Linked DNA regions of Homo sapiens. The protein of the gene in region 2 interacts with the protein of the main gene of each other region in a biochemical or structural test. Each region holds a gene or a part of one and is shown on either strand. Other genes may lie near its edges.

Evidence for each region.
Region 1: the proteins of PIAS3 (region 2) and MITF form a complex in vitro, tested with the Homo sapiens proteins (2 studies listed by BioGRID).
Region 3: the proteins of PIAS3 (region 2) and SMAD2 form a complex in vitro, tested with the Homo sapiens proteins (one study listed by BioGRID).

What each region holds. Positions count from the first base shown.
Region 1 is NC_000003.12:69,737,230-69,740,976, forward strand, and holds the start of MITF (microphthalmia-associated transcription factor), read left to right. Parts: upstream 1-2,234; 5' UTR 2,235-2,368; coding exon 2,369-2,472; intron 2,473-3,747. UniProt on the Homo sapiens protein: Transcription factor that acts as a master regulator of melanocyte survival and differentiation as well as melanosome biogenesis.
Region 2 is NC_000001.11:145,857,129-145,860,875, reverse strand, and holds the start of PIAS3 (E3 SUMO-protein ligase PIAS3), read left to right. Parts: upstream 1-1,794; 5' UTR 1,795-1,885; coding exon 1,886-1,909; intron 1,910-3,747. UniProt on the Homo sapiens protein: Functions as an E3-type small ubiquitin-like modifier (SUMO) ligase, stabilizing the interaction between UBE2I and the substrate, and as a SUMO-tethering factor.
Region 3 is NC_000018.10:47,811,964-47,815,710, reverse strand, and holds part of SMAD2 (mothers against decapentaplegic homolog 2), read left to right. Parts: 3' UTR 1-3,747. UniProt on the Homo sapiens protein: Receptor-regulated SMAD (R-SMAD) that is an intracellular signal transducer and transcriptional modulator activated by TGF-beta (transforming growth factor) and activin type 1 receptor kinases.

The DNA.
Region 1 (3,747 bases), on a different chromosome or scaffold from region 2:
TCTCTTGCGGGTGTACTTAGTTGAAGATGAATTCGGAGGTCTTGGTTTTCCTGAGTTTTCTTTCCTTTGAGGTTAGTCCCTTAGGTCTGGAAGGTCACTATTTGATGTAATAAGTGATGGGTAGACTGTTTCACTGCAGATCTAAAGAAGTTATAAACTGCAGTTGTAACATAAAGTCTGTGATAGCCTTCAGTGGGTCAGCTGACCAAAATTATGCACAGTTTTGTTTCTATCTGTATTTTCTGAGAAGAGGATCCGTAGCTTCCCTCAGATTAAAAAACTTCTGGTGAGCCCAAAGATTAGGCAGCTTCCCATGTTTCTCAATGGGGATACATACCACTGAAATTTGGACAAGAAAATTTGTTATTGTGCAATATGTGTAGTGTCTCTGGCCCATACCCCTTAAACGTCTGTAACATCCATAAGTTATTATGACAACCCCTCCTCCCATATTCCAAGCACTGATAATTGAGAGCCCAGATGAGATTAGAAGTCTAGACTGCATGTTTCCTTCATGTTTGATCTTTCTTCTTTCTCTCCCAGAGAACATGAAGGAAACACGTTTTCTTTGTTTGCTTTTGACAGCTAATTTCCAGCAGTCCATCTATTAAGGAATCTAGGATCCCACTTTTATGAGCACAAAACTCCCACTTTCCTTAGGGGTGTTCTCAGGTATTCTGACATAGTTTAATAGTTTCAGGGGAGGGCCTAAAAGTCGTATGTTGGGGACTAATTTTTATTCTGAAAATTTGGTAATTGCTACTGCAACATAGTGTGCCTTCTGCACTTTTTCCAAATCACCTTGAGAACTCCAGCCCTAACATCGATCCATCCTACTGGATGTCTTTTCTGATGTGAAATTAAAATGTTTCAGTGGGAGGCAAGATATGCAAAGGGGTAACTCCTGGGAGGTGCCCAGTTGTCACTGTAGCCTCTTTAGAATTTTCTCCTAGGACAGTCATTTAGTTTATTAATTCTGAAAGGCCAAACACCAAAATGAGATGTTAATCTGAAAGGAATAACTTCAAGACCTAATAAAGAATGACCACTGAGCAGAGTTTTTATAGATTGCAAATCACTTTCTCTTACATTTGACCTTGCAACATCTTCTAAAACTGGTTTGCCAATCTCTTCTTTTATGGATGAAGAAATGGAGGCTTCTAGGAACCAAGTGACATGCTCAGGATTGCACAGCTCTTCTTAGAAGGACTGGGGATTTCAACTCTGAGTCTTATACCTTTAAATGCCACTGTAACTCTATACTGCCTCCCTGATGCCTCAAAACACTTTTGAAAAGAAGGAACACGTCCTACTGGAGCTAATCAGAGGGAAGAACTAGAAGTACAAATGAGCCACAACGGAGAGTTTTAAAATTCTCTTCCCTAAGTGAGTTCCGGGAAGCTCGGGAAGGGGTGGACACTTGTACAGTTCACTTGTACATCTTCACTCCTGAAATGCTAGGACAAATCTCATTTGAACTCCCAGTCAACTGAGAAATTAAAAGCAGAGAGCAACGACGCTATTTTGTAACTTTGTGCCTTTTAAAATTAACCGAATCTTTCAATTGCTGCTGTAGATTAGAAGTGGCTACTTGGATAAAGGGGAAAGAGCCATTCAACTGATGAATACTATTGTAAAAGTCCAGACTTAGTTCTAGAAAAGGAACGCACAAGAACAATTTCTCCAATAACGTTTTCATTACAGAGCGAAGGAAAGTTCTTCCTCGTTGTTCCAATCCGAGGACAAGCTGATATGTCGCAGCAGCCCAGGGAAGCATGCGAGCTGATAGGAAGTCCTTTTATTTTAAGACAGGCTCGAATGCTAAAACTTTCTTGTGCCAAAACCCTTGACTATTTTATTTTTAAAATAAGCACTTGGCGTGCCCTCGCAGATGTCTGAGCTGAGAGGTCGGGGCGATGGTAGAAGAGCAGTCAGTGTCCATTCTTATTCATATTAAGTAGCCAAGTCTGTACCCTTGAAGCAAGTGGGGAGAGAGGAGGGAGAGGAGCTGCTGACATTGACAATGAATCCAAACAGGAGTTGCACTAGCGGTGTCCACCACGTTGCCTCTCCCCCGCCTGGCCTTCTGGGAGCTGTAGTTTTCGTGGGAGCGGCTCCCCAGGCGAGCTGGGAATGCCCCGCCCGGGCCGAACTACAGATCCCAGGCGGCGCTCGGCCGCCAGCCCCTCCCGCCCGGGTGCGAGTGTAAACTCCCCGCGCTGGGGCGGGCGGCCGCGAGCCGGCGAGCGGGCAGAGCTCGGCACTGCGCCGGGGCGCACGGCTCGGGGGACCCAGGCCCAGCTACCTTCCCTCCGCCCCCGGGCTCTGTTCTCACTTTCCAGCAGTGGAAGGACGGGAAGCGGGAGCCATGCAGTCCGAATCGGGGATCGTGCCGGATTTCGAAGTCGGGGAGGAGTTTCATGAAGAGCCCAAAACCTATTACGAACTCAAAAGTCAACCGCTGAAGAGCAGGTGAGTGGTGACAGCTGGGCAGAGGCGCACCGGGCGGCTGGGGGGCACTGCGTCTGCCACTCTGGGGCGAGGAGAGCGGGTCGCGGGAGCTCTGGGACAAGGACCCAGTGCCCTTGCCCCGGAGCAGAGGGCGAACTGCCCCTCGCAGTTGGGGGCCGCGCCTGCCCGGCCCAAGTGCGCCTTTAGGAAGCTCGGATGGAGCGCACTTCGCGGGGGCGCGGCGGGTCGCCGGGGACGAAGCGTCCAGGCGCGGGGACCCTCGGCCGAGGATGCCAGCTGCTGAGACTGATTGGGGGCTGGGGAGCGACCTGGCGCGATGTGGGGGAGGAGGAGCGCCGGGCCGGGACGCTGTCCCGGTGGGATGGGGGAGAAAGAGTTCTAGTGAACCCCCTTTCTGAAGATCCCAGCGGGTTGAGGGCTCGGAGAGGGAGAGCTTTGGGTGGACTGAGATGCGACATTGGAGGGAAGCAATTAGTTCGCTTGGAGTCACCTCTTGGGAGTCCGGTCTCTGTGGGGAAACTAGCCTCTGGGCTCCTGCAGGTGAGGTTTCTCTGGGCTCCGCCTCTCACCTCCAGACCGCTGCTAGCGGGCGCGGGAGGGGCCAGGGCAGCGGTGGGCGTGTCCCCTTGTTCAAGTTAAACTCTCTGGAAATAGAGTCCCATTCAAATCCAGGCCTTACCTGCAGAGGGGAAATGAGCCTTGGTCTTGGGGGTTACTGGGAGTGTACCCCGCTTGGCAGAGACACGTGTTTAATTCGCTGGGGACTTCAGAAACTTTTTAGACGAGGAGTGAAGACATCCACTGCTCTGATGCCCCATCCCCTCTAGTGCCCACTTCCCTTGAGCCACCCTTTTTGCTGCCTCCATTCCCACTTGTCTGTCGAAATGGATTGGGTGTCTTCCGTTCTCTCTGTCCGGCAGCCACTCTGGACGCCTCGTACTTCTCGTTTACAATGTTTCCTAAAAGGGACATGGTCAATGGAGGCTGGAATAGCTGAGAAGGGTTTATTTCCACCCCTCTAAGCTGTGAGCTAGGATAAGGCTATCATTGGAAGCATCCAGCAGGGCTTCTGCACTCGGCTGTAACTTCCTGCCTTGCCCTTCGCTGTGGATGGGGCCTGGGTGAATGGGCCTGGCTGGCAGAGTGGGAGAGGGTCTTGAAATGAGGGTGAGTGGAGAAGGGCAACTGAACGGGGAGCCAAGTGGTGTAATCTTGGCCTCTGGCGAGCACTGGGCTGGTTCTTTTTCTAGTGGAAAGTGCAGCCAGGTTTATTTC
Region 2 (3,747 bases):
TAGACTGTGAACTCCTGCAAGGCTTTTATGTCCTCAGCACCTAATGATCCCTGATAAGCACTCAAATATTTATTGAACAAATTGCAGCCAACTATAAAATGCTGTGAGTTTCTCAGTATGTAGTGCGGGTACATTTCCCTTAAGTTGGTATTTTCTGGGTCAGGCGCGGCGGCTCACGCCTGTAATCCCAGCACTTTGGGAGGCCAAGGTGAGGCGGGCGCATCACGAGGTCAGGAGTTTGAGACCAGCCTGGCCAATATGGTGAAACCCTGTCTCCACTAAAAATACAAAATTAGCCGGGCGTGGTGACGCAGGCCTGTAATCTCAGCTATTCGGGAGGCTGAGGTAGGAGAATTGCTTGAACCCGGGGGGCGGAGGTTGCAGTGAGCCAAGTCGCGCCACTGCACTCCAGCCTGGGTGACAGAGTGAGACTTGGTCCCCCCCCAAAAAAATAAAAAAATAGGTATTTCCATGGATACAGAAACAGATTTAATTTGGTGCCTGCATGTGAGTGATCAGCTTGGTTGGGATGGGGCCTCTGGAGGGTCCAAGGCTTTGGAGGAAGGAGAGTGGGTAGGCAGTTCAGAGAGGGACAGAAAGATCCCTTTTGTGGGTAAGAAAACCCCTCTGTTCATCTTCAGCTACACCAAAGGTATGGGGGCTCTGGTGGAGGTATTCTGCACGTGTATCTAGGGTAGTTACTGTTAGGTACACTTTGGATTCAGTACCCCAGGCTTTGCCCTAGGGAGGGACAGTTGTCATTTCAAGGAAGACTGCTTTATACTGTCAGATACCTGGTTCACACCGGCTTAGCAGCAGTGTGCCACCACCCCAATCCCATACGTAAGCGTTGAGGGGTCACAGAGGTAGTGAGAATGATGGGATCCAAGGATCTCGTCTCTCCAGATCCACTCACACCAGGAGTTAATCTCTCCAACGTCGAGCTCTGAGTCCCTCCCTCTCTCGCCCGAGCTCCGCCCCCCTTCCCTCTTGGCGGTCCTGGCGGGCTTCCCCTGGAGGGGGCGGCCCCAGCCCGAGCGCTAGGCCGGGCGGAGCTCCGGCCCGGGCGGAGCCGCGGCCGCCGCGTCCGGCTGCTGGACCGAACTTCTGCCGTGCGGACAGCAGGAGCAGCGCCGAGCCCCATTCCCCCACCTCTCCAGCTCGCCCTCTGAGCCTCCCGAGCCCTCTCTCCATTTCCCACAATTGTGCTGGTAAGTCCCGCTCCCCGCACCAAACTTTTTTTTGCTGCCGAGTTTGAGTCCTACGATCGGACCACGAGCTGCACTGTAGTTGGTGTATGGGGGAGGAGGAGAGGGTGAATTACTGAATGCCGACTCCACGGCTTCCCTAAGACGGATCAGCGCTCGCCCATTTCCCGAGTTGGAAGACCTCTCGATTTTAGTTGATTAAACTTATGCAGAGATGGAGATGAGGGTTTGCGCTCCAACTTCGCTACCCCCTCCCCCATTTCTCTGAGCTCTAGCAGTTCCCGATACTTTCCCTCCATCTTTCAAGTATCTTTGGCTCCCTAAAAGCTTGTCCCCTCCCAACTCTGCCGTGGCAAAGCCCCCCTCCACCAGGCACTTCGGGCCCGCCTCCTCCCCGTTGCCCTAGGGACCCCGCGATCTTGGGGGCCATACACTCCCTCCGGGGCTACGCGTCCTGCCAACCGGCCGCAGACGTGTAGCTGCTGGGTCGGCTGTGGAGGGAGGGGCTCAGGCTGGGGCTTGTCCGAAGCCAGGCGGGCGGGGCCGGGAAGGGGAGGTATAGGGGGCCGGACTGGGCGGAGCAGGCGGCATTTGCGGCCGGCGCCAGGGTGGAGAGTTGTGCGCCGGTCCCTGGGCCTGAGCTCCGGCTCCGGCTGGGGCGCCTGCGATGTCTCAAGATGGCGGAGCTGGGCGAATTAAAGGTACCGGCCCCCTCCCCCCATCCCCATCTGGACTCAGCCCGGCGGTACGCCGTGTCCGGGAAGCGACCGAGACTGGGTGCCGGGGCTCGGGTGGGCGCCGACGACGTGGCAGGCACGAGCTGCTGAGGATGGGAGAGAAGTAGCTGAGAGCGAGGAAGGGGCTGCGGCGGGGCTCCGGGGGCGGGGCTGCGGGGCAGATGTAGGGGTGGGGCCGAGGGGAATTGCAGCTGTTGGGGGCTGAGGCGCAGGGGGCGGGGACGAGGGGTAGAAGTCGGATTTAGTAGTAGGGGCGGTTGTTGGGGTAGGGCCAGGGGGAAAAGGTGCTGTAGAGGCACTGGGGGCGAGTCGATCAAGGCCAAGAGATGCAACAGTAGGGGGCACATGCAGGGATGGGACCGCGGGGCAGACGTAGGGGAGGCTCCGGGGGAAAGGCAGCTGAGAGGATAGGGTCTTTGGGGCTACTCTCGGGATCCGAGCTTTGGGAAATACCAGTAGGCTGCTGAGATGCAGGGGGCGGGGCTGTGCGGGCCGATACCTCGAGGGGTGGGGCAGAAGCATCCTGGAGGCTCAGAGGAAGGTCCTGCCGTAGTGAATCGCGGTGTTTGGGAAGAGGCAGAGGCATGTGAAACTATGGGATAGAAAGGTGGGAAGTTATAGGGGAAGCTAATGGAGAAAAAAAGACAGGACAGAGGAGATAAGGATGGGGAGAAAGAGGAGCAAGTTTCTCATCACATTCCATAAAAGGGGTCCAAGACAAAGCCTCCTATGAGAAGAATTGTGTAGGGCTAGCAAGCCCTGCACATGACAGGATCTCCTAGAGATTCACAGAAGGGAGTCTTCTAAGGAGAGCGCTCCCCTCCTGCTACATAGAGTTTGGAGGGTGACCACATCTGAGGACATCTCATAGAACCTCAAACTACCGAGTTCATCCGCCTGCCTCCTGGTTTTCTTCTGCCCTTTGAAATGGGAGCTATGGTCCTGGGAAGGCTGGAGGTCTAGCCACTGGGCCCAGCTACCTTCAGGGGATTTGCGATTCTGTGCCCTGACTCAGAGGCTTTTCCTTCATCCACCCAGGGTCTCTGTTTAGAGCTCTGCCCTCTCCTCTTCCACCCCTATAGGGGGGCGCTGTAAGTTGTAGAGGAGTATTAATTTCTCTGTGTAGGAGAGATGCCAGATTATGGTTCCTGGCAGATAGAGTAAACAGGCAGGATACTTGGACTCAGTGATTCACTGTTAATCTCCCCGACCCAAGTTTTGGTCCTGTTTCCCTTCCAGAAAAATAGGACTAAGTTGTGGGGAGGGGGTGGTTATATAAACGATTCCAAGAAAGGATCTGGGGAAGTTATGAGCATTGAACCCTGACCTGAAAACCCTGGCCACAGAAGCTTCAGAGGCTTGGGGGAAATAGCTGAGGTGAATTAAGGTGGTTGGGAGGGGTGGGCTGAAGGGCACAATCCTCCAGCCACCTAGCCCCTTTCTTCCCGTGGGGCTGTCTGGCTTGAATCCTCTTGTCTCTCCCTCCTTCTCCCTGTCTCCTATCCTGTTCCCAGGAGGCTGGGATGGGTTTGAGAGTCTGAGAAAGGGCAAGAGAGGAGATAAGCAGCTTAAAGCAGAGTCCAGGGATGGAGGCGGGAGGCTGCATGGACTCGGAGGTGTGTCTGAGGGTGGCTTGCTGTCTGCCATTCCCTGCCCCACTCTGGCTGCTTCCAGGCCTGGGGAAATAGTGTTGCTCAAGCTCGGGGGTGGTGGTGATGATGCTGACCTGATGGTTGCTAAAGTGGGACTGAGATGTCCCTTTGGATAGGTCGACTACCTGGCAGTAATCCACTAGCTGCGAA
Region 3 (3,747 bases), on a different chromosome or scaffold from region 2:
TGTTGATTTTCGGTTTCACCCCCTCCTTACTAAATCACCCCTCCATTTGCTGCAGTTGCCCTTGCGTGCTGTACTCAGACTTGGAGGAAGTGATGTCTTATTCAAGGCCAGTTTTTGTACTAGTGGTTAAATAAATGGTTTCCAAATTGGAGTCAGAAGGAGAGCTTCTAAAATGTAGGTTCCCTGGCCTCAATTGTGAGATTCTGCTTTAGCAGGTCTGGAATTGGAGCACTGGGATCTGCATTTTCAGAAAACCCAAAATGATTATCAGCCAGGACTTAAACCTCTGCTTTAGACCACATTCCCTGTGGGCTTTCAGATTTTCTATCAATGTTCTTCCCTCTTCCCAGCTCCCACACATTAAAACTCAGATCATGCAGAAAAGAAGTTACAGTTCCTTCATTTCACATCAATTTCTCATGCATCCCATCTGGTTTTGGGAAGGTGTGGGACGAGGTGGATGGCCTTAAACTTGCCAATCAAAGATAACGTTCTCTTTCGATTCAAATAGCCTATCTCAGGCTTAAAACCATCTCTTTGGATAAATGCTCAGCTTTTCAAAGGTTCTTCCTAGCTTCTTCCTCATGATGGCATCTAGTGGGTGAGAACAGTCATCTCCAGGTGACACAGGAAAGAGTTTCTCTAATGTATGTGCTGAGGTCCTTGACGGTCCTGCTGCTGGTGCTCATCCTGCCATCTTTGCTGGATGTCACTGAGTCTACTGGGTAATGTAAGTGGGTCCCTGGCTTTTGTTCACTGCTGTCATGCCCTGCTCCTGACCACAACTCTGTCATTGCCTTTGGTCTCAAGGTCTCTACCTTAATAGCTTCCATGTCCCAACTATGGGACTGTTAATCTGCTGGGCTTTGGAGTGGGTGGGAAGGGATGATGTTGGAACTTTGGGATGTACTGAACATCTTGCTCAAGCTTTGGGAAGCCAACATTTTCTCAGACTGACTAGACACCTCCTTCCACCAATGCTGAGCTAGTGCTCCTGTGCCATACTGGGTAAGCCTCTAAGTCATGAGTAGGACTTTTTTGAGTGGCTTGCAGTCTTCCCCAGGCTATGCCAGGAAAGTAGTTGACTAACCCTGCTGCTCCAAGACTCGCATACCCATCCTGAAGTTTCCGTTTATTTCCCAACAGGGCAATTGCAATCTCAATCAATCTCTCCCTGCCCTGGGAGTCATTCCACTCCTGCCTAATGAAGAGACTCTTCTCACATCGTATTCTCAGTTTCTCTTATCCATGGTTAGGAGTAAAACTCATGTTCAGTTGTCCAAGCTTTGCTTTTAGTATGTGAATGGAGCTCTTAGCATGTAGAACTCCCTTCTCATTCTCAGTAAAGTCTGACTTTGAAGACTACTTATCATCTTCCTAGAGATGCCAAAGAATAATCAAGATAATAAAGGCAGGCTCTGAGATTCACAGCTGAGTAGCAACTGTGCTGTTACTCTAGTACACACCCTCTCCTTTCCTGTGACTGTCAGGCTTCAGGGCTTACCTTTATTGGAAAGACAGCAGGGGGGCATATATGAAGAAAATGGAATCTTTAATATTGTCAAAGTCTTGACCCAATAGAGACATTCTTGCCCCAGACTCTCTTGCTTCAGTGCCTTTGCCTGTTCTGGTCCTAAGTACCTTGAATATCCTTCTCTTGATGCCCTGATATAAAACTCTTTATTCCTCAAAGCCAAGTTCAGGTTATCACCTCCACCACAGACTTTTCTTTCCCTCCCCAAACTTCATTGCCTCTTCTCATCACTCCCTTTGTAATTTGTTTATACTGGTAAGAGAGCATTCATCATAATTAGGCCTATCTATGCCTACCTTTCTTGTTAAATTATGAGCTTTGTTCTGCCTTGGATATCTCTCTGGCTTGGATATCTCTCTGGCCTTTGCTCTGCACTTCCAAATGTATCCATTATTCAAGACCCAGGTTTCCAGCCTGATCAACATAGCAAGATCCCATCTCTCCAAAAAAAAAAAAAAAAAAAAATTGTGGGGCCGGGTACAGTGGCTCATGCCTGTAATCCCAGCACTTTGGGAGGCCGAGGCAGGTGGATCATGAGGTCACGAGTTTGAGACCAGTCTGGCCAACATAGTGAAACCCCATCTGTACTAAAAATGCAGAAAATTAGCCGGGTGTGGTGGTGTGTGCCTGTAATCCCAGCTACTCGGGAGGCTGAGGCAGGAGAATCGCATGAACCCGGGAGGCAGAGGTTGCAGTGAGCCGAGATTGCGCCACTGCACTCCAGCCTGGGTGACATTGCAAGACTCCATCTCAAAAAAAAAAAAAAAAAAAATTAGCTGGGCATGGTGGCAGGCACCTGTAGTCCCAGCTACTTGAGAGGCTGAGGTGGGAGGATTGCTTGAGCCCAGGAAGTCGAGGCTTCATGAGCCATGTTTGTGCTACTGCACTCTAGCCTGGATGACAAAGTGAGATCCTTTTCTAAAAATAAGGACCCAGTTTATTTTATTTAGTTATTTAGTTATTTTTGAGACCAAGTTTCATCACTCAGGCTGGAGTGCAATGGCACAGTCTTGACTCACTGCAACCTCTGCCTCCTGGATTCAAGCAATTCTTCTGCCTCAGCCTCTTGAGTAGCTGGGATTGCAGGTGCCCGCCACCACACCTGGCTAATTTTTGTATTTTTGGTAGAGACAGGGTTTCACTATGTTGGCCAGGCTGGTCTCAAACTCCTGACCTCAGGTGATCCACCTGCCTTGGTCTCCCAAACTGCTGGGATTACAGGTGTGAGTCACCCTGCCTGGCCAGAACCCAGTTTAAATTCCATCCTCTCTGCAGAGTCTTCCTTAACCACCCCTATTGAAAGTTACCCCTGCTTCCTACAAGAAGTGGTACTTGGATGTTCATGAGATACCTGTGCAAGGCTCCTGTGGGGGTCCTGGGGAGACAGTGACATGGACACTCATGAAAGGAACCTTGGAATAGCGAGTGTGTGTGCTATAAAATGTGCTTTAGATTTGATTACCACCACTTAAGTTATGAGCTCTGATATGGTTTGGGTCTCCATCCCCACCCAAATCTCATCTTGAATTGTAATCCCTACATGTTGAGGGAAGGAAGTAATTGTATTATGGGGGTGGTTCTCCCATGCTGTTCTCATGATAGTGAATTCTCACAGGATCTGATGGTTTTATAAATGGTAGTTTTTCCTGTACTTTCACACACTCACACTCTCTTCTGCCACCTTGTGAAGAAGGTGCCTGCTTCCCCTTCTGCCATAATTGTAAGTTTCCTGAGGCCTCCCCAGCTGTATTAGTCTGATCTCACGCGGCTAATAAAGAGATACCGGAGACTGGGTAATTTATAAAAGAGGTTTAATTGACTCACAGTTTTACATGGCTGGGGAGGCCTCACAATTATGGCAGAAGGTGAAGGGGGAGCAAGACACATCTTACATGGCATCAGGCGAGAGAGCTTGTGTAGGGGAACTCCCCTTTATAAAACCATCAGATCTCGTGAGACTTATTCACTATTACAAGAGCAGCACGGGAAAGACCCACCCCCATGATTCAGTTACCTCTCACTGGGTCCCTCACATAATATGGGGAATTATGGGAGCTCCAATTCAAGATGAGATTTGGGTGGGGACACAGCCAAACTATATCACCAGCCATGTGGAACTGTTGAGTCAATTAAACCTCTTTCCTTTATAAATTACCCAGTCTCAGGTATTTCTTTATAGCAGTGTGAGAACAGACTAATACAAGCACCTTGAG